4 linked regions of the Homo sapiens genome follow. The protein of the gene in region 3 purifies or fractionates together with the protein of the main gene of each other region. This does not show direct contact. Each region holds a gene or a part of one and is shown on either strand. Other genes may lie near its edges.

The links.
Region 1: the proteins of SNAI1 (region 3) and HMG20A purify together in Homo sapiens (affinity purification with mass spectrometry; 4 studies listed by BioGRID and IntAct, with this or other methods). This does not show direct contact.
Region 2: the proteins of SNAI1 (region 3) and SIRT2 purify together in Homo sapiens (affinity purification with mass spectrometry; 3 studies listed by BioGRID and IntAct, with this or other methods). This does not show direct contact.
Region 4: the proteins of SNAI1 (region 3) and FBXL8 purify together in Homo sapiens (affinity purification with mass spectrometry; 3 studies listed by BioGRID and IntAct, with this or other methods). This does not show direct contact.

The regions. Positions count from the first base shown.
Region 1 is NC_000015.10:77,472,858-77,479,899, reverse strand, and holds part of HMG20A (high mobility group protein 20A), read right to left. Parts: intron 2,346-7,042; coding exon 2,270-2,345; intron 1,606-2,269; coding exon 1,390-1,605; intron 722-1,389; coding exon 585-721; 3' UTR 579-584; exon of another isoform or gene 1-578. UniProt on the Homo sapiens protein: Plays a role in neuronal differentiation as chromatin-associated protein. Acts as inhibitor of HMG20B. Overcomes the repressive effects of the neuronal silencer REST and induces the activation of neuronal-specific genes.
Region 2 is NC_000019.10:38,878,031-38,882,631, forward strand, and holds the end of SIRT2 (NAD-dependent protein deacetylase sirtuin-2), read right to left. Parts: intron 3,462-4,601; coding exon 3,402-3,461; intron 3,126-3,401; coding exon 3,070-3,125; intron 2,868-3,069; coding exon 2,791-2,867; intron 2,707-2,790; coding exon 2,655-2,706; intron 2,144-2,654; coding exon of another isoform or gene 2,111-2,143; exon of another isoform or gene 1,673-2,110; coding exon 1,602-1,672; intron 1,471-1,601; coding exon 1,404-1,470; intron 1,281-1,403; coding exon 1,125-1,280; 3' UTR 530-1,124; downstream 1-529. UniProt on the Homo sapiens protein: NAD-dependent protein deacetylase, which deacetylates internal lysines on histone and alpha-tubulin as well as many other proteins such as key transcription factors.
Region 3 is NC_000020.11:49,985,978-49,989,426, forward strand, and holds the end of SNAI1 (zinc finger protein SNAI1), read left to right. Parts: intron 1-1,894; coding exon 1,895-2,079; 3' UTR 2,080-2,909; downstream 2,910-3,449. UniProt on the Homo sapiens protein: Involved in induction of the epithelial to mesenchymal transition (EMT), formation and maintenance of embryonic mesoderm, growth arrest, survival and cell migration.
Region 4 is NC_000016.10:67,155,960-67,162,992, reverse strand, and holds the start of FBXL8 (F-box/LRR-repeat protein 8), read right to left. Parts: upstream 3,037-7,033; 5' UTR 2,937-3,036; intron 1,259-2,936; 5' UTR 1,208-1,258; coding exon 1,056-1,207; intron 146-1,055; coding exon 1-145. Other genes in the region: TRADD (tumor necrosis factor receptor type 1-associated DEATH domain protein), read left to right, coding at 6,333-6,483. UniProt on the Homo sapiens protein: Substrate-recognition component of the SCF (SKP1-CUL1-F-box protein)-type E3 ubiquitin ligase complex.

The sequences.
Region 1 (7,042 bases), on a different chromosome or scaffold from region 3:
AAGCTTCCTACTTATGTAGGCTCACATACATACAATGTCTCACTGACTACTTCTAAATTATCATTAGTATTTTCCAGAGAAAAGGAAGATTAAAAATTAAGTTATATTTATTTTGTTCTGAGTGCTGTTTTGGGGATGATTTCTTCTAAGTTTCCCACTCACTTTTCAAAACCTTTTGGGAAACTAATGCCCAAGAATACAGCTAATAAGTGACAAAGCTAGAAATGAGGTCAAGCCACAAAAACCATGCTTTTCCCATTAAACCATTCTGAAGCAAGCATAAGAAAAAACTGTCTTGAGTCTGTTTTCTTTTATTTTTAGAGACAGGATCTCTCTGGACTTGAACTGCTGGGCTCAAGCAATCCTCCCACCTCAGCCTCCCAAGTAGCTGGGACTACAGTGATTCTCTTTTCTAATATTATTTACTACATTTAACAACCATGCAACAGGAATCTTAACCAAGTCTCCAACTTGTTCATCCAATGTAATCCCAGGGTTTTAGTAGTATTGATAAAGTCTGATGACATCTTATTTTTGATGATGTGCTGGCATATAAATATTTATCAGTGAGCACTCACCATTCCCTAACGATCGAGTCTGTTCACAACTTCTCGAACTGTAGCTATGAAGTTTTCATTGTCTTGGGGATTAGCTAAAATAATACTGTGCAGTCTGTTCATATATGAGTCAATGGTGTCCACTGTAGGTGTCTCTCCACTTCCTGAAGTGAGATAAGAAGAAAGTAAGAAAATCCTCCCTATTCAGTTGTACCATAAAACACAATTTCAAAGAAACAGTGATTCTAATGTGGTCTGCTCCACAGACATGCTTTTAATTTTAGAGGAGAGACTTTTAGATCTCAAAGAAATGAAATTAGTCCACATACTCTAAATAAACAGATGGGCTATATAATTGCTGTATAGTATATATGAGCAGCTGCATGTAACAGAAGGTTAGACTCGCTCAGCTTTCTGCTATGACTATCTTCAAAATGAAAGAGTATATAAGAAATACCAGTGTTCATTCTCCCTTCCTTCCCGTTAAAACAAAAACAACTAAAAAGCAAACAAACATACATAAGAAGAAACACTCTCAAGATTTACTACTCAGTTTCCAGTGTTCTGAATAGCAAATTAAGCTTAAAAGAGGGGAAAATAGATATTAAAATATAAATGGACAAAAATTTGAATGACCAGAGAGCCTGAAACATTGGACGATTTTAGCCAATACTGACATTCTATTATATCCAGAGAAGAAAAAATGTAGTTTAATTAATTTTCCTCTGGAGGAGATTTCAATCTCTCCACACCAGTACTAACATAAACAGCACCCCACTCCACACAACACACACACCCCTGTCACTGACAGTTCTCAGGCAGGAGGACTTACCAGGCAAGGGCATGCTGGCAAAGCTGCTGGTCAGCACCTGCCGCAGGGTCTCCAGGTGCTGCTGTAAGACTGTGTTGCGGCTCCGCTCCTGGATCACATCCACCTCCAGCTTCTCCACTGCTGTGCGCATGCTCTCCACGTGCTTTTGCAGGGCTGCATTCCTCTCCTCAAACTCCATGTTGGATTTGCGAAGCTGGCGGAGCTCTGCTTCCCGAGCTGAGGACATACATCCCACAGAACACATGCAGCACTAGAAGGAGTCTCTGAGGAGTCCCAATGACTCTTACAGGGAAGTTCTGCTTAGCTGCCTCTAATTTAGCTACCCCACCTCATCTCCCTATTCTCATTATGGCATTCCAGATAGCAATTTCAGCAATGAAACGCCTGACTCCCCAGAGCTATTTTAATTCTTAAAGCTAGTCACATTCCATACATAAGATTGCAACAAACAGTTTCAATTCCCAGTATTTTTTTGTTTGTTAGTTTTTGCTTTTTAAATTGTACAATCAGAAGCCTGAGGGGTTTTGCAGGGGGATCCTGGGAGACTGGCCAAGCACAGCTGTAGGTACCCATCTTTACCACAATGGGATCAGACTTGCTCTTACTTATTTTATATTTTGGACTCCCATGTAAGTTTTTATTTGTGCAAGGGGTTCCAGGCTAAGAGTTTGAAGACAAGTGAATTTGTGATTTGCATTTATTTCCTTTCATCCAGAGACCAAAGAAGCTTTGACAACAATGCCCTAGCTTTCCTTCACTGGTCTTTGAGTAGTCCTAAGGAGGGATAACACTACCATTGCTTTTGAGCAATGAATTTCTTCTGAGAACTAAGTCCCCTGTCAAAAATCTGAGAAACACAAAAAGAAACTTCAGTAATCACCTTTGCTATGGTTCAAGAATTCCTCTGTAAATATAGGGATGTCAAAAACAGACCGTTCCTTTACCTCTGTTTCTTTCTGTGAATCAAGAGGAACAAAACAGTTAATTCTTAATAGAAGATAAATTAAATAATAGTGCCTGAAGACAATGATCATGTCTTCTTTAAAGAAAGAATAGGGTGAGCAGGAATCAGTCCAGGTGAGTCTGTGAGGGAAATGTATTCATCTTTTCATTGGAATCCAACTTTCACAGAGCTTAAGCAGGTAAAGTATTCACTTCTCTCAGGTATACAACTACTGTGCAATTAGAAACCTTAAAACAAAGTTACGTAAATTTCCCTAATGGAGAATTTGAAGCCATTTCTTAGCCTTGTGTTTTGAATAGTCAACAGTATACAGTTGTGAAAGTGATTGCAGTGGGAATTGAGAAAGAGTAGTTTTTTTTCAGTCACTTTTGTTGGTTATGCATGTAAAATGCTCCCTGAGATAAGATTATGCAATATAAATTTGCAGAGTGGACAATAAGAATTTTAAGCAGAAATGTAACTGCTATGAGCAATAATTATGATATTCCATTGGTACTTCTATTTACTTAAGAGAGGCAGCCTATCTTTGGGGTCTTTTAGATTTTCTTTAGACACAGGAAAAATAAACAAACAAACACATGAGACCGAGAAATCAGAAATAACCAGGCTCTAAAAATTAGAAAGCAAACGATTATGTGAGATACAAAAGAATAACAAAGCCTAAAATTAATTCACCAATAAGCCATTAAAAATAAAAAAGCCTCACAAGATCATTGCAAAATATATTCCACAATGATCTTTAAGAATAAAGTCAATAACTCAAGATGCTTTGGCTGTCGTTTCTAAAATGAATTTGAAGTTGAAAGCATTGTGAATATTAATTTTAAGTGTGTTGGCATAATGTTCAAAATTTTCCATAACAAAGGTGGTAAAATGGCAGGAAGTGAGAAATGAAGAAACTGCTAGTGAAATCTTAAGATCCCAGGACCTTTATAACATGAAAAACATGCAAACATAATACCTAGATTTCATTCCTATAAACAATTGTTTAAAGCTAGACAGAATGTATCTTTCCTACTCTTGTCACCACTAGCTTTTTTTTTTTTTTTTTTTTTTTTTTCTGAGAGGGAGTCCCTCTCTGTTGCCCAGGGTGGAGTACAGTGGCACGATCTCAGCTCACTGCAACCTCTGTCTCCCAGGTTCAAGCAATTCTCCTGCCTCAGCCTCCCAAGTCACTGGGATTACAGGTGCCCACCACCATGCCTGGCTAATTTTCTGTATTTTTTTAGTAGAGACGGGGTTTCGCCATGTTGGCCAGGCTGGTCTTGAACTCCTGACCTCAGGTGATCCACCTGCCTTGGCCTCCCAAAGTGCTGGGATTACAGGCTTGAGCCACCGTGCCCAGCCTCCACTAGTTTTTTAAATCTTTGAACACAAAAATGACTTGGTGCCCAGTAGAAAAGCTAAGCAGTTCACAGCTTAAGAGGGAAATCTGACACCCGAGCTCCTGTATTCATAACGGTGGCCGCCTAGTAAGGGGGCTGGGCTGTGTGAACCACCTGCCAATGGCAGCTGAGCAAGAAAGACACTGAAAAGCTATGTAATTTCAGAGCACTTAATTTCTACTTGTATTTTTCTTCCTAACAAAAGAAAGCAAAGTTTCCCAGAATAATTTGAAAATGAACAACAAAATTATCAATCGAAAGTCCCAAGTTTCAACATGCAAAGCTCTACCTCGAGCCAGTTCCTAGGGGATTTCAATGGAAACTAATGTATGAACAAGAAAGGCTGGTTCCAGAAGGAATCTTAGCCATATTTCGCAGTGGCTTTCTCTCAAATTTGCTGGCTTCCCATATGCTTTAACTGTTACTGGGCTGCTGCAGGAAAACAAAACTTAATGACACACAATCCCAACATGCACAAGGCATAACAGATATAAACATAAGTCCACAGATGACAGCATAAAGACTTAGGACATTATCATCCTATCTTATTCAATCTCCAACTTAACTGCAGTTACATGAGATCAGTTACCTAAGCTATACGTCTCAATATCTGCCAGTTAGATGGGTAAAGTGGAGACGCTTGGCTCCCATTACCATGGTACAAAGATCCCTCTCCTCCAAAGTCTTGACTCTCCTCAGACTGGTAATCTTTTCTCTTCTTTGCCAGAGCAGTCCAAATCAAGCTAATTATGTAAGGGCAGAGGACAGCACCACATAGGTGCATTAACACACTGCCCCTTGGTACAGATTCTCAGAGCACAAAATAAGAAACATTAAAGCAATTCAATGAAACTGTTCAGTCTCTGAAAGGTAACAGAGAAATTCTACTTAATGGAAGAGTGGTAATAAAAACCATCAGCGCTCTTCCATTACTGAGCACATTTCACGGCATGGAGAGGATCCTTCTGGGGGCTTGGGTGTACTTAAGCTGCTCCAAGGATAGCTCAAAGGATTAAAATCATAAGGATCTGATTACCCTTTCACTGAAAGGGTCTAATTTGTTCAAGCTGAGTGTCATTCTGTCATTTCTCATAAATTAAAGGAGAAACAAAATTATTGTTTCTATCTTAGTTTTCACATGAGATATAGACACTTTCTTGAGAGTAATACTCGCTAACTCTTGGGTCTAGTGGGCTGGCTTTCGATTTGAGAGGAGCAAGAATATTCTTCACTTTGGTTTCCATTCTATATATTGAGTGGAGGTTAAGAGAAAAGAGGCCCTTTTGAACTGAACCTATTTTGCTGTGATCTAGGCTCAGGGCCAGAATTTCAAAGAGTGTGATATGTGCTTCTCTCAAGAGACTTTTACTTTGGGAAATGCTCTTAACATTGTGTACCAGCCTGAAGTGCCCCACTGCTATGCAGAATGGCTTTCAGGTCAGCATTTCTTTAGCTCTAATATGCCCTCTCCAGTACCTGCCTTGGTAACAATGACTTAGGGATCCAAGTTTCATTTAGGAATACAATAGGTTTCTTTACTATACACAAACCAAATAGTTTACTTAACTGGCAACACATTTTGCTGACACCTTGGGCAACGAGGCCCATTTTTACTTTCAACGCTGTAATTTATGCTATGTAGCATGGCACTGTGCTGTCAAGAATGTTAGACTATGACACAGAAGGCCTGGGTTTCTGTCACAATTCTGCCTCTAATTTAATTCAGTAAGTGATTCTGGGTAAATTCTTTCCATTCTATATACTGTCTTAGGCAAGTCACTTTCCTCACTGGCAAAATGAGGTGGTCAGTTGAGAGGATCACTGAGTCTCAGTGTTTTACTCCTCATAGGATAAGTAAAGGGAAATAAGTATGTATTTAGGATCTATGGTCTTTAGACACTGCAAGATATTTGCTCTTTTATTAAAAACTTACTCATACCTCTGCTCAAGCCATTTTACCCACCCTGAGATGCCCACAAAACCTAGGTCATTTTTAAGTCCTGATTCAATTACTCCTTTCCATGGGCTCCTTCTGCGGCTGCTTTTCACCCATAGTGCTATTTTTCTGAACTTCTATTATACTAAGAAGTTATATGTAAGAAAATTACTGGGTAACAGTGTTTAAAAACAGTTTTAAAACTTTCAAATCAGTTCTTTTATACTGCAATTGTTCTAAAATTATCTAATTTAGGAAACATATTATTCAGTGAAAAATAAAAATGGATGAAGTAAGGGACATTAATTGGGTCAACACGCTTACTAAAGGAGCTTTATCCTGCTGTGGCCATACCAACACATGGATTTACAGAACCTACTGTATAACCTTTTAAGAAACAACTGCTGGCTCTCCATCTACTCACTCCTTTTTTTTGTTTGGTTTAACATGTGTCTAATCCTGTAACAGGGAAATACAGAGACTCACTTCTTTTTGCAAATCACAGAAATTACAGAAATTCATATCACACTAATGTATCTGAATAAACACCTTCACTTCTCAAATAATCAGCAGCAGGTTCTATGATACAGACTAAATCTACATCTTTTCTGACTGCAACTATCAAGTTTACTGAAGACAAAAATGCTACATATAGTTTGGCCAGCAAAATTCATAGTGATGAAATGAGTCAGATGACTGACACCTATTCAGATGACTGACTAGAAAATGTGAGATCTAATGTTTCAGGTTACTGTCCAAATTCTCTTTGGTAACTGTTAAGGATAGAGAAGCTATAAAATAGAGAAAAAAAGAAGCACAGGAATTTCATGATATTGATAGCTGGGCACACAGGCAAAGAAAGAGAGAAGTAATTATACAAATGTCTGCTAATATGAAAAGTTTACAATATTATTATGATTTAAAATACAAAGAATACATACAAAGTTTCTCCAGCAAAACAACATAACATTTCATCCTAATTAGAGCATAGAATGTCATATATAATTACATTTATATAGGATTTATCTGAAGAATAAAATGTAAATATTTACTATGCTTCTCACTTTATAATTCATAGATGGTAATAACGTCTATTTGACCTGTGAATCTGAATCTTTTCTCTATGTTTTAAGGTAACCAACATTTCCTTGATTTAGTAAAAAACCAAACACATGTAAAAGAGTACATCAGAAAATTCTTTTTGTTCAAATTCTCAGTTATTTCAGGTCAACTTTGAATAGATTCCATAAAATAATCATTTGTGGAATACCTTCTCAAGGCAAAGGTATCATGATAGGTGGTATGGGGTTGGATATAAAGATGGAAACTAGACTGTGTATGTCCACAAAGACATTACAACCAAAGAGT
Region 2 (4,601 bases), on a different chromosome or scaffold from region 3:
CGCAGGTGCCCTGCCCAGGCAAGAGCAGGAAGGAAGGGAGGGGAGGGGAGGGGAGAGGGAAGCAGATGCCTGCTTGTGTACCGTGGCAGGAGAGGAGGCTGTGGGCAGTGCGTGGCAGGGGTGGGTCAGGGCAGCTGCCTCATACCAAAGGGAGGCAGCAGGGGCTGAAGATGCCAGATGCTCGGTTCCTGGGGGCCCTACCTGTTCTCGGAGGAGAGGCCTGCAGTAGCAGGAAGTGGAGAGAGGAAGCTGAGCAGGCAGGGGGAAGAGGCGGGGCTGGGGTATCTGAAGTCAACTTTCCTCCCTCTTTCTGGGGCCTCAGGCCTTTAGTGACGGGGCTTAGAGGAAGGGACACTGGCAGGCTGGGAGTCCAGGGGTCAGAGCCACGAGGGCCCCCGTGAGGACCCTCTTGTTACCCCTCACTCTGGATCCCGGAGACTTTCTGGTTCCTTAGTGGCCCAAGATCTAACCCCCTCCCTTCAGAGATTTCCCTGGGTGCCCACAGAAAGAAACAGGAGGCCAGACCGGATTGTTAGTTGTTTTTGTTTTTAATTTGTCTCCAATAAGCAATGTCTTCTGCCCATCCAGCATGGGAAGTGGGTCCCACGTGAAGGGGGCCCACCACCCACTTTGGGAGCTGAAGGCAGAGACTCGGGAGCCCTCCCGGCTCAGACTCCCCCTACGCTGGGTGTGGGTTATATTCAGAGGCCCACACCCACACTGGGGTAGGTTAGGTATGGTTTACTTAGCCACAGGCCCCCGGGGGCAGGAGACAGAGTGGGGGCCCGAAGCTCCCTGTCCTGGAAGAGTTAAAAGTTCTGGGGTAGCCCTGGCCCCGTGGGGGCAGTTAGAGATGAGGGAGGTTACTCCTTAGCCCAGGAGTGGTTAGAGACAGTGGGGCTGGTAGAGATGCCTGTTTAAGCCTTGGCCTCTAGGAGGTGTTAGAGATTTGCTGGGGTTGGGGGCCAGGGTTGCTGGGACCCCAGTTTTGGGGAGGGAGCTGTAAGAGATTGGGGGATGTTCTGAGCTCCCCAGACAAGAACTGCTGGTTAAGAGGGGGCCAGGCCCGGTTGGGGCTCAGCTGTCCCTGAGGAGCTCGGCATCCCGCCTGGGAGATGCAGCTGTCACTGGGGTTTCTCCCTCTCTGTTGTCCTGGCCTCGTCCTTGGCAGGTGGCGGGGACTTCTTGGGGGAAGCTGAAGTGCTGGGGTTGGGGACCCCCGCCCCCGACTGGGCATCTATGCTGGCGTGCTCCCTCCGGACAAGGTCCTCCAGCTCCTTCTGCAGGAGCAAAGGTCACAGAAGTCAAAGGTCACTGTGCATCATGGGGTCAGAGGACCCATGGGGTGGGGAGAGGGTCCAGGGATGGGGCTCAGGACAGGCTGGGGTTGCTCAGCTCCTCACCTTCCATCCAAGGAGCTCAGCAAGGGCCAGGCAGCCCTGGTCGCATTCACCCAGCCAGGCCACGTCCCTGCGGTGCAGCAGGAGATCAGAGTTCCCAGGCGGGCTCGCCCCTGCCTGCTCCTCTCATCTGCCTTCGTGCCCCCGCTCCCACCTCACCCTGTCCCTTCCAGGCTGCCCCAACCCCCGGCGGGGCCTCACCTGTAGGCCTTCTTGGAGTCAAAGTCCATGCCTCCTCCGAGGCCCATAATCATCCCCAGGAAAGGGTCCGACTGTCAGGGAGGGGGTGGGTCAGGGGCAGGAGCAGGGAAGGGAGAGCTAAGAGCACAGACCCTGGAGCCAGGTGGCCTGGGTTTGTATCCTAGCTCTGTGACTTTGTTTTTTTTTTGTTGTTGTTTTTTTGGTTTTTTTTGAGACAAAGTTTCACTCTTGTTGCCCAGGCTGGAGTGCAATGATGTGATCTCGGCTCACTGCAACCTCCACCTCCTGGGTTCAAGTGATTCTCCCGCCTCAACCTCCCGAGTAGCCTGGATGACAGGTGCCCAGCACCATGCCCGGCTAATTTTGTATTATTAGTAGAGACGGGGTTTCACCATGTTGGTCAGGCTGGTCTCGAACTCCTGACCTCAGGTGATCCACCCGCCTCGGCCTCCCAAAGTGCTGGAATTACAGGCGTGAGCCATTGCGCCCAGCCAGCTCAGTGACTTTGGTCAAGTGACTTGTCCTCTCTGTGTCTTAGTTTCCTGTAGAATAGGGGTGATCACAAAACCGCGATGGGGTTGTGGCGCCAGTGAGTTCACGCAGGCTAAGACTTGGGACAGTGTCTGCCCACAGCGTGCGCTGCTTGCCCGGTGACCCTGCCTACTTCCCCTGAGGGGAACACCTAGGAGGGAGCACCTGCCCTAGAGTGAGGCTGCCCAGGAAAAACAGACCTGAGAGACCCAGAGCGTGGACCCAACCCCGCCCCCCGCACTGTCTCTCCTGACCCCTGCACCCCCTCCCACCTCCTCAGTCCCTGGAAGCCCGGCCTTCCTATCTGGCTTCAGCTGGTTTGAGTTGGAATTCTATCACTTGCTCAAAAGGGCAGTGAATGTCCCAGAGGCCTGGAACCCGACCCCTCTGGATTCTAGAGCCCCAGGTTCTGAGCTGAGGAATGCAAAGTGCTGGGGTTCCACAGTGGGGGTTCCCTCTGAGGAAAAGGGTGAGAGGGAAGGGGGAGCCTGTGACGACGGGGGCTTGAAGAAGGGCTCTTACCTGGCCAGCTTTCTCCTTGTTGATGAGCAGGCGAGGGGTGGAGAGGGGTGCCCTGTGGGGAGGGGGAGCTAAGGGGTCAGGGTCTGTCCTGGCCCTGGGTGCCCAGCCGTCCTCCCAGCCACAGCCCCCAACCTACTTGCTGATGAGGGAGGCAAAGGGCTGCACCTGCAAGGAGGTACCCATGACCAGGAGGAGGTCCACCTTCAGGAAGTCCTGCGGGGAGGGGCGTGAGCTTGGGAGCCTCCGCCCAGGCTGCGCCACCGCTCCCTCCCCCGCCCCCAGCAGCAAACCTCCCTGCCGCCCCCCATAGCTGGGGAGGTGACCTTTCCTGAGGCAGGGCCCAGGCTGCCCCCATGGGGCCCAGCACAGGTGGAGGCGGCGGTTGGGGATGCGGGGAGGCTGGGGGGCCACTTACTGACTGCATACAGGAGAAGAAACGCGCTGGGAGGCTCTCACCAAAAAAGACGATATCTGAGGTGGAGACAGATGGACGGACAGAGACAGTGACATGGGGAGGCAGAGAGGACAGGTGGGAGCAATGGCAGACCCGGAGGCCACAGTGGGAGTTGGGAGCAGTGGGGACCGGCCAGGGGCACAGACCCCATTCTCCCCAGGATGGATCTGGGGCACTGTTCAGAGAGACAGAGGTGGCCAGATGTGTGCGGGTGTGGCCTTTGGGAGGGGGTCAGGGGGAGGAGGGGACCCCCACCCAAATCCACCTGGGCAGGTCCCTGGCCAGAGGCTCACCAGGCTTCACCAGGCTCTGACAGTCTTCACACTTGGGCGTCACCTCAGAGAAGATCTTCTCTGGGTATGGGGAAGGGGAAGAAAGAGAAGGCAGTAAGAGGATCTGGGCCGGAGTCTGGAGGTGCAGCACCCCCACCCCTCTTCCACTGTTAACATGAACACACCTCCATCACTTGGAGTGTGATGGGTGTCTCCTGAGGTGTCCACTCTGCTCAGAAAAGACCTCTCTTCTTGTTGTTGCATTTTTTTTGTTTTTTTCTTTCTTTTTTTTTTTGAGATAAGGTCTCACTCTGTTGCCCGGGCTGGAATGCAGTGGCACGATCATGGCTTACTGTAGCCTCAACCTCCCAGCTTCAAGTGATCCTCCTGCCTCAGCCTCCTGAGTAGCTGGGATTACAGGTGCATGCCAGCACGCCCGGCTAAATTTTGTATTTTTTGTAGAGACAGGGTTTCGCCATGTTGCCCAGGCTGGTCTCAAACTCCTGGGCTCAAGCAAATCTGCCCACTTTGGCTTCTCAAAGAGCTGCAATTACAGGTGTGAGCCACTGCGCCCGGCCTTATTGGTTTGTTTGTTTTTTTGAGACAGGTTCTCACTCTGTTGCCCAGGCTGGAGTGTGGTGGTGCAATCATGGTTGAGTGCAGTGGTGTGATCATAGCTTACTGCACCACCGACTTCCCAGGCTCAAGTGATCCTCCTGCCTTAGCCTCCCGAGTAGCTGGGCTCACAGGCATCCACCATCGCACCTGGCTACATTTTATTTTTTTTAGAGATGGGATCTCCCTATGTTGCCCAGGCTGTTCTCAAACTCCTGGGCTCAAGTGATCCACCCACCTCGACGTCCAAAAGTGTTGGGATTACAGGCATGAGCCACTGTGCCTGGCCTTATTTCTTATTGATTTAGGAAGCTTGAAAGCATTTCTGGCCGGGTGTGGTGGCTCACGCCTGTAATCCCAGCACTTTGGGAGGCTGAGGCGAGTGGATCGTTTGAGGTCAGGAGTTTGAGACCAGCCTGGCCAACGTGGTGAAACCCCGTCTCTACTAAAAATATAAAAATTAGCCAGGGGTTGTAGCACGTGCCTGTAATCCCAGCTACTTGGGAGGCCGAGGCAGGGAGAATTGCTTGAACCCGGGAGGCGGAGGTTGCAGTGAGCCGAGATTGCACCACTGCACTCCAGCCTGGGTGACAGAGCAAGACTCCA
Region 3 (3,449 bases):
CCCCTTTTGTTTGGGTTCAGGTCTCATCACACTTTGGGCACTTACTGTACAGGAGGGTAGTGCTCAGGACTTCACCAACAGCCCTGGGAAGGGAAGGGAGGTGCTGTCCTAACTCTGGTCTTACAAATGGACTCCAGCCCCTTTTCCAGATCTCCAGAGTCAGCCCTTAGTTCACAAGGGTGAACTTACCCTTCTCATTCACATGAAGACTTAGAATGCAATCAACAAACCCTTCAGGCGTGGCGTGTGGAGGCTGCTGAGTAATGGCAGAGTGGAGTAGTGCTCAGGCACCCCTCCCCCAATCCTCTATGTCCCCCACCCTTTGGAGTGGCGAGTTTCCATTTCTGCCCCATGAGACTGAGTCCAGCTCTCAGGCGCTCCATAAGTCCCTATTGAATGCATGGGTCCCATTGGAGCCATCCTCTGGACTCTCTCCTACCCTGGTAGCTCAGTGTGGCACCCTAGGCACCCAGGAGGTGATGGAATGAATTCACTCTCAGCTCTTAAATTCCATCCAGCGCTGGGATTTCACAGGCGGGCCCTGACCTTGCGGGCATATCAGACTGGGCGTGAGGGGATTGGAGAATTGCATGTTTTTTAAAAAGACTATTCAGTATTATGGAATAGTGTCTAGCACTTAGTAGGAGCTCAGTAGATTAAAAAAAAAATTATAGACAGGGTCTTGCTTTATCGCCTAGGCTTGTCTCAAACTCCTGGCTTCAAGCAATCCTGCCTCACTCGGCCTCCCAGAGTGATGGGATTACAAGCGTGAGCCACCACACCCAGCCTCAATAGATTTTTGTTTAATGGGTTACTGTTATGACCTTTTATTTGGAAAATGCTGCATCCCCCAGAAAAAAACAAATCAACATTATTGGTGTTTTTGGAACTATATAGCTTTTTGGTTGGAGCAGGGATTGTTATGAGGCATGAGTGAGGGGGCAGACTCCTCTGAGGCCTCTTTAATTTTTAAAACAGACTTATTTATTCTCTAAGGGCTTGTTGAGGATTTACTGGGCACCCAGCTCCATGTGCAAGACTTTTCCCAACACAGCCTTGGCCAGGCAGATGGTGTGTCAGGGCCACAGGTTTCCGTAGCCTCTTGGGTGATAGAAAGGGGCCCAGGCCCTGGGCTGGGGCTCAGAAGGGACTCAAAGGAGGCCCTTGCCCTTATGGGACTCAGCCTGATTGGAGAACAGACAAGGAGATTTGGGATTACAGCGCAGGAGGTGGGGTGGTGAGGAAAGCAGGCTGCTGGCCGGGCCCCAGGAGTGGCCTAACCAGCTTGGAGGTGGGGGTGGGGAAGCCTCTTAAGGCTGACTCTGGCTTTGGCCCCCAACAGAGTAAATCAAGGAATGACTCCAGGACTGATGGTAAGGACACCAGTCACGTCCTCCCTTGACTGAAGGCAGTAAGGGCAGTAGGTGAAATCAGAGGCTTTGGGGTCCTGCCAGGGGAACCTGAACATGCTACTTCTGGGCCTCAGTTTCACTGTCTCTGAAATGAGACCACAGTAGGATCAAGTGACAGTAGGATGAATCAGTAAAGGTGTTGAGTCATTGTTGACCACTTCGCACGTCCCTGCGGGATGTGGATGAGTACCCTACCTTCTGTCACTTATCAACCCCTATGAGTGGGGGGTGAATAGCCCCATTTTACAGGTGGGAAAATGGAGGCTCAGAGAAGCCAGACAACTTGCTCAGAGTTGCACAGTGGGAAGCAGCAGAGCTCCGTCAGGTCCCGGCCTTTGGACCCTGGCTGTGTGTTTGACGGAGGCCTGGCTTTCCTGGGATCATGGGATTCTTTCAGGGTTTGGGGTATGCGGGGAGGGATTCCCATCACTGCCAGCCGTTGTCCCACGGCTCACTCGGCCTTTCTGGCGTTCTCTCCCCAGGCGAGAAGCCCTTCTCCTGTCCCCACTGCAGCCGTGCCTTCGCTGACCGCTCCAACCTGCGGGCCCACCTCCAGACCCACTCAGATGTCAAGAAGTACCAGTGCCAGGCGTGTGCTCGGACCTTCTCCCGAATGTCCCTGCTCCACAAGCACCAAGAGTCCGGCTGCTCAGGATGTCCCCGCTGACCCTCGAGGCTCCCTCTTCCTCTCCATACCTGCCCCTGCCTGACAGCCTTCCCCAGCTCCAGCAGGAAGGACCCCACATCCTTCTCACTGCCATGGAATTCCCTCCTGAGTGCCCCACTTCTGGCCACATCAGCCCCACAGGACTTTGATGAAGACCATTTTCTGGTTCTGTGTCCTCTGCCTGGGCTCTGGAAGAGGCCTTCCCATGGCCATTTCTGTGGAGGGAGGGCAGCTGGCCCCCAGCCCTGGGGGATTCCTGAGCTGGCCTGTCTGCGTGGGTTTTTGTATCCAGAGCTGTTTGGATACAGCTGCTTTGAGCTACAGGACAAAGGCTGACAGACTCACTGGGAAGCTCCCACCCCACTCAGGGGACCCCACTCCCCTCACACACACCCCCCCACAAGGAACCCTCAGGCCACCCTCCACGAGGTGTGACTAACTATGCAATAATCCACCCCCAGGTGCAGCCCCAGGGCCTGCGGAGGCGGTGGCAGACTAGAGTCTGAGATGCCCCGAGCCCAGGCAGCTATTTCAGCCTCCTGTTTGGTGGGGTGGCACCTGTTTCCCGGGCAATTTAACAATGTCTGAAAAGGGACTGTGAGTAATGGCTGTCACTTGTCGGGGGCCCAAGTGGGGTGCTCTGGTCTGACCGATGTGTCTCCCAGAACTATTCTGGGGGCCCGACAGGTGGGCCTGGGAGGAAGATGTTTACATTTTTAAAGGTACACTGGTATTTATATTTCAAACATTTTGTATCAAGGAAACGTTTTGTATAGTTATATGTACAGTTTATTGATATTCAATAAAGCAGTTAATTTATATATTAAAAAGTCTTTGGTGTCATAGAGGAGTGGGTATTTTGAAAGGTCTTTGGTAAGGGAGGAGGGGACAGGAATTCCTGAAGCTTAGATATTTCTGACACAGCCTTAAATCTTGTCCTTGGAAACATCATAGGGCTTTGGAGTCCTGGGTGTCACTGTCAGGGACCTTATGAGACTGGGTTTTCCCGTTGGCCTGGGTGTCCTGTCTGCTGCTGTTTGGGTGAGCCAGCGGCATCCATACGAGCTCTTCACTATACACTGTGGCTTTTTACTTTCTCGTTCTTGAATTTTGAAGTTGATCTGGCCCACGGAGTGCAAAGCTGGCTTCCTGGGTCTTATCAACTAGACAGGCTGCAAAGCTCTGCCCCAGCACTGCAGGTCTTTTGGGGTGGGATTGTCCGCTTCCCCCAGATGCGAGTGGAATGCGACCAAGGAGACAGAGGATGTCCTTCCTGTTTCCAAGGGCTCCAGGCCCCCTTGGGCCTCCTTGTCAGTCCCACACCTCCGTCTTGCTGCTGGGTACCAAATGGCCTTTGATGCGAGGAAATT
Region 4 (7,033 bases), on a different chromosome or scaffold from region 3:
ACGGCCCGCCAGAACCATCAGCAGCTCGATGGCCGCCCGGCGGCTCGGCTTCCTCGATGGCTCAAATTCCAGCCGTAGGTTGTGAATGTGGTCGAGGCAGGCGGACAGATAAGGTGGCAGCATGCCTTCCAGCTCACATTCGCAACTTGGGTTAGAGCCGTGCAGAAAAGGCCTCAGCTGAGTCCCTGCGACCAGCGGAGAAGCCTCTACCCACCCCTTAGCTGGGGTTCCAGCTGCCATCCCATTTCCTGCCTCCCTCCCCACGTCTCTGTTCAGACCACGACTGTTGCCCCAAAGGAGGGAACTCGCATCCTATCCTTTTAGAAGATTTCAGTGGCGTCTGCCACAGGATGAAACCTGGACATGGAGAGCCAATGATATTTTAGGAACTGGGCTTTCTCAGCTGTCTCTAAGGAGTCTTGGCATGGCCTCCGGACTGCTAGGTTCGAATTCTGCCTCTGCCATTCCCTAGCTGAGTGACCCGTGGGAAGTGATTAAGTCTCTTTGCCTCAGTTTCCTATCTGGGCAATGGAGGTAATGATAATACCTATCTACCACACAAGGTTTTCATAAGGATTAAATTAGTTAATATATGTAAGGCACTTAAAAACAATGGTTGGTATATACTAGGCAGTCAATACGTCAGCAATTATTATTATTATTTTGAGATAAACTGTTACTCTGTCGCCAAGCTGGAGTGCAGTGGTGCCATCTCGGCTCACTGCAACCTTTGCCTCCCGGGTTCAAGCGATTCTTGTGCCTCAGCCTCCCGAGTAGCTAGAATTATAGGCGCCCACCACCATGCCCGGCTAGTTTTTGTATTTTAGTAGAGACGGGGTTTCAGCATGGTGGCCAGGCTGGTCTCAAACTCCTGACCTCAGGTGATCCACCCGCCTCGGCCTGCCAAAGTGCTGGGATTACAGGCATGAGCCACCACGCCCGGCCAGCAATTATTTTTTAATATGGGGGAGTCAACCTGAATATCTACCTAGCCCACGACTCCACGGAGAAGGTGAGTGGGCGGTGGGGAGAGGAGTGTGGAGGAGCAGGCTCACCTGATTTTTGTGTCGTGCCACACGGCGCTGCAGGTAGCAGCGGCGGCCCAGGCCCTGCAGACCCTGGCGGCGGCAGCACGGTCTCTCAGGGACAGGTGGCGGAAGATGAGTGCCAGCACCTCCTCTGGCAGTCCCTCTCCAGGCTCGGCCATGGCCCAGATCCGGCTGGGGTGGGAGGATCCGCCACTCCCAATAGCTCCGGCCTGGAGAGAGACGGACGTCTCTGAGGTCGGGAAGGCGCAAAGTGTTGCAGGAAGACCGAGCTTAGGTGTACAAATGCTTGTGGCCTGAGGAACTGAGGGCCTCTCAGACAGCGTGGGGCATCAGATAACCCCGAAACTTGTTCACAAAGCAGATTTCACCGCCTCACCTACTAAATCAGGCTCTCCGGAAAGGGTAAGGCCCAGGAATCTGCATTTCAACAAGCCCCTGTGACTCCACAGGTTCCACGTTGAGAACTCCCCTCCCACTTTTTTTTTTTTTTTTCTTTTTTTTTGAGACAGGGTCTCGCTCTTTACCCAGGCTGGAGTGCAGTGGCGCAATCACAACTCACTGCACCCTCAGTCTCCCGGGCTCAAGCAATCCTCCCACCTCAGCCTCCCGAGTAGCTGGGACTACAGGGGCACGCCACCACGCCTGGCTAATTTTTGTAATTTTGTTGCAGAGACGAGGTCTCGCTTTGTTGCCCAGACTGACCTCGAACTCCTAGGCTCAAGCGATCGGCCCGCCTGGGCCTCCCAAAGTGCTGGGATTACGGGCATGAGCCACCGCGCCCGGCCTGAGAAACCCCATCTTAACCCCGCCGGTTAGTAGAAAGTGACTACAGGGTTAATAAGGCGGGAGCGTTAATGTAGGCTTTTCTTTGTCAGGGACCATGAGCCAATCAGGAAGCGAGGCGTGGGCGGGGCAAAGCTGGATCCACCCCTGGAGGGGAGGCTCCTTCCCCGCCTCCGCCTCGCCGGGGAGATGTCCCGGGTGCTTCCTAAGACAGCCCCACTGGATGAAAAAAAACTTGGGTCTCTGGGACCTGACGGTTCTGGGGCCTGAGGGGCTCAAGATTTAAGTTCCGACCCCTGAGCAGCCCTGGCTCCCGCTGAGCAATTTGGGTTCGGCTGGAACTCCGCAGACCCACCCTGGAGCGCAGCCTTTAGAGGGGGATGGGTTACTGGAAAGTGTGCGTCCTCTTTGAAGTTGCCAATCCTGTTTGTTTTTGTTTTGTTTTGTTTTGAGACGGAATCTAGCTGTGTCGCCCAGGCTGGAGTGCAGTGGCGAGATCTCGGCTCACTGCAAACTCCGCCTCGCGGGTTCAAGCGATTCTTCTGCCTCAGCCTCCCGAGTAGCTGGGACTCCAGGCGCGCGCCACCTCGCCGGGCTAATTTTTGTATTTTTAGTAGAGACGGGGTTTCACCATATTGGCCAGGCTGGTCTCAAACTCCTGACCTCAGGTGATCCACCTGCCTCGGCCTTCCAAAGTGCTGGGATTACAGGCGTGAGCCACCGCGCCCGGCCGCCAATCTTGTTTTAAGGTTCTTAAAGGTTTGTGTACACAAGGCTTCACACTACTCGCCAGTTAATGTTCCCATATCTTCCGGGCTAACAGTTTCTCCCGGAATTTGTGCCACGTGTTTCCTGGGGCTTCAGATACGTTCGGCCGGGCTTGTACCTGGGACCCATGGGCACCCCGTTTTGAGTGCCCACTGGTAGCAGCGATCTTGAAGCCGGATCCCCAGGGGTACCAGAAAATTCTGGTCTCCAGGGGGCGCCCCCTTGATTTACCGAAGTCTGGCAGCTGTAGCTCTTACGAGCCCCCCGCCTCGTAAGAATCGCAAACCCCCAAAGTCGGGTCTTCCTGCCGTCTAACCTTGGGCGCTGGTGTCTTACCTGCTCGGCGGACCAGATGGGCTTTGCCCGGGGCAGGGGACTGGCAGCAGAGGACAGCGGACGGGAAGCAGCCACCGGGAGCCCGCGGGGCGGGACGCGCGGGCGGACGGGGCGGCTCGGGCTAGGGCACCGCCCCAGCGCCTCCGCGCACACCCGGAAGCGGCGGAGTAGAGCGGAGCCTGGCGGGCGTGGGAACCCAGGCCCCGCCGAGGCGGCCAGGTTAGTGCAGCAGGTGGGTGGGTGGGCTCCCCGGTGCGGGCGGGAGAGGAGGTGGATCTTGGCTCCGAAGCGTGGGCGCGGCGCAGATGTCACCGGCGGCTGCTCCAGCCAGCTGGTGGCGGCGGTCTACTGAGCTGTTCGAACACCGTGGGAGGCGGGGGACGGTACGGAATTTGGCCCCCGCAGGCTCCTCGTCCCTGCCAGCACTTTCGAGGTGCAGTAGGGCCCTGCAGGAGAGAGGGTGGGGGAGAAGGGGCTGGTTCTGAATACTTTCCTTGAGCGGAGACCCCCTTGCCCACCCCAGCCGATCGCACGTGCGAAACCCCAGCTTGAGGGTGGGCTAGTGGGAGCCTGGGAAGCTCCCCTCAAGCGCTCGGGAGCTGCGTAGCTGAGTAGGGGGTGTGCCCGGCGGGTCGCAAGGAGTCACAGGCTTTCAGTTCTGGGCCACGCCCACAGGCTGTCTCTGTCCACCCAGCCAGAGGTGGGGCTGCCCCCGGGACTGTTAGGTGTTCAGGGGGCACCGTGCGTGGCTCGTCCCTGGAAACAGGCGCAGAAGTTGTTAGGTCGGTACCTAAGCGCCCCACAGTCTCCGGCCACCAAACTTTCTCAGGACCCAGCCTGGAAGCCTCAGCCCCGCCCAAAAAGGGACGACTCCTGGTGGGTGGGGCGCGGGGCTTCCCAAGGAGGGGCTTCCGTGAAAGAACACGTAAGAAGAGCTGCCAGTCGGCGGATGCGAAACTAGGGCCCTGGCCTCTTTACCCTGTTAACTCGACCTCCAGCCTGGTTCACCTTCCCCATCTTCTAGTACTAGTGAGTGTGAGAAAGCATCCCCAGTCTCCAGGTTCCCAGTACTCCCCACCTCCCCCTCGACCCCCACAGACCTGATGGGCAGACAATGGTCCTGTTCGGTCCCCACTTCCACCCCTTGGGGTGGGACCATAACCAAGTCAAGCACTCTCAAGTCAAGGGGCCAGAAAGACATGAAAGAGGGAATGTTTCCAGGGGAAGTTCCCACTCTCTCCTACTCCCCAGGCCACTTTCGAAGGACTCCCCCCTTATCTCACCTCCGTGGCTGGCTCCCTATTATGGACCCACTTGTCACCTGCAGAGTTTCCTGTTTTTTCTTGTTTTGCTTTTAAAGAAAACAAATTTATTTTGCTCTTTTAATACAAAGAAAATATGTCTACTTCACATAAAGCAGAAAATATTGCTAAATACAAAGAAAATAAAAATCACCCACAATCCTTCCCCACCCCCACCTACCTTCCTTCATCCTGCCCAGAGATAAACAAAATGCAAACTTCCTGTTACTATCCAGACTGTGGTTTGGCGTAAGTACACAAGTATTAATGTTTTCTATGAAAAGATTAGAAGGCTGGGTGTGGTGCCTCACACCTGTAACCCAGCACTTTGGGAAGCTGAGGTGGGCAGATCGCTTGAGCCCAGGAGTTTGAGACCAGCCTGGGCAACATGGTGAAACTCCATCTCTACTAAAAATACAAAAACTAGCCAGGCATGGCGGCGTGTGCCTAAAGTCCCAGCTACTTGAAAGGTTGAGGTGAGAGGGTTGCTTGAGCTGGGAAGGTCAAGGCTGCAGTGAGCTGCGATAGTGCCACTGCACTCCAGCCTGGGTGACAGAGCAAGACCCTGTCTCAAAAACAAGACAATTGAAAAAACAAAGGTCGAGAGTAGTGCCTTACTCCTGTAATCGCAGCACTTTGGGAGGCCAGGGCAGGAGGACAGCTTCCTGTTCCTCATGTAAACAGATGGCAGCTGGGCCACCCCATCTGTCCTGCCCCATAGCTAACACTCAACACTCCTCTTAGCCCACCATATATAAACCCTGATGAGAGTACAGGAGTGTGACTGATGGGGCAGGAGGTAGGGCCTTGAGCCCATGATTATAGGAAAAGGGTGGGTAGGAAAAGGGTGAGGTGGGGAGAAAGAGGAGGCAGTTTTCTACTTGCTGTCTCACGGGGTAGTAACTGGGAGACCATTGAGCTGTAGGTCAGTGCAGTGGTTCCTTGGCTGGGAATTTTGCCCCCGCTGGTCCAGAGCTAGGTTTTTGTCAGAAGATGGAGGAAGGAGATACTATACTAGCACCAAGGGGCCCTGGCTTTTTCTGGACAGGGAAGGAATAGAGCAATTTGTGTTGGAAATGACTGGAGCCGAACTCCAAGGGCTTTATAACAAAAAGGAATTATTTAGCTCACATAACTGAAAAGTCCAGTGTGCAATGGCTTCAGGGACGGCTGGATCCAGGGGCCTAGTATGCTTAGGAATGCACTTCTCCATCTCTTGACTCTTTCTTTCTGTGTCAGCTTCATTCCCAGCCAGGCTCTTCCCAAGCAGTGCTAAAGGAGAGCTACCTTTTCCTTCCAGTTCAGCCCCAAGGGAAGGGAAAGTAGTGCCTCTTTCCTATTGGCTCAACCAGAGTCGCAGCGTTGATTCTCATGGGTCCAACTTAAGTCCTATACCCCGCCCTGAACTAATCACTGCAGAAATGTGAATGGAATATGCAGATTGGCCAGGTCTGGTACACAAGCCCGACCTGGAACTAGGGAGTGGGACACAGGCACATGGATTGAGAAGAGGGAGGAGGGAAGTCCCCAAAGGTAAGTCAGGCTTGGGGAGAGAATCTGGGTAGATGCAAACTACAGGTGCCCTTCGAAGTGAAGACAGGAGGTTTAGTCTTAGGCTGAGGTCCTCCAGAAATGCTGGGCTCAAGTCTACTCAGAAGGCAAGGCCAGGATATGGGTCTGGTTGGCTTTGGGGCATGGGCACCATCCAGAATGAAGATGTCTCTTGTCCGCATTGGTAAGAGAGACACACAGGCCTGAGAAGGAAGCAGAGAAGCCCCATTGCAGGATCTGCCTCTGCTCCCCCTCCACTGTGACCTTGGGCTCTTTCTCCAAGAAGGCAGTGGAGGGACAGTCCTCACTGCAAGCCTGGGGCGGGTGGGACTCTGTACAGAGCCAGGAGCTCAAGGGGCTTCCTGTGAGATGGTGAACTCCTGTCCCAAGTATGCCAACCAGTGGTGGGGACAACTGAACCATGTGGGACTTGAGGCTACTGTGGTGGGGACAGCTGAACCACGTGGGGCTGGGTAGTTGTCTCCAGGGTGGAGGGAGGGGGGATGAACTGGATACCTGACTGTCTGCATCTCCAGGAGGTGAGATGGCAGCTGGGCAAAATGGGCACGAAGAGTGGGTGGGCAGCGCATACCTGTTTGTGGAGTCCTCGCTGGACAAGGTGGTCCTGTCGGATGCCTACGCGCACCCCCAGCAGAAGGTGGCAGTGTACAGGGCTCTGCAGGCTGCCTTGGCAGGTGCGTGGATGGGCGGGCATGTGGAGAGGAAGGGGTGGCCTGGAGCATTTTGTGGGTGGGCCTGGGTTTAGCCACCTTTAAGAAGAAGATTTGGGGTGGGAGGAGCAAGACGGAGGACCCCTGGCTGTGCAGACTCTCTTCTTTGCTTGTGGCATGACCTTGAGGATAGGCGTGTGTTCTCGAGTCTGTGTATGATTTACCAATTTGTGCACTAACGTCCTTTGCTCCATCCCCGCCCCCCTCCACCAGCCGGCTCACTCCTTTCTACTAATTGTGGATGTCTCTCTCCTCTTTTCCTCTCTTACTGCAGCACTCCTTGCTCAAGACCCCTCCCCAGTACCTACCCTTCCAGGCCCCCCTTTCCCATCTCAGGGCAGAGGCCACAGGAGGCTGAAGCGGGTTGGGGGATCTGTTCGTGGCCTCAGAGCGGCGAGAGCCCCTCTTCTTCCCGAGCAGTGGGAGTCGCGCTTGGTGGAGGCCGAAGACCTGAGACCTCTCGCCCTCCTCTGCCCTGCTGGCCGCCTACCCAGACGGCTTGTTTGCCCAGGGC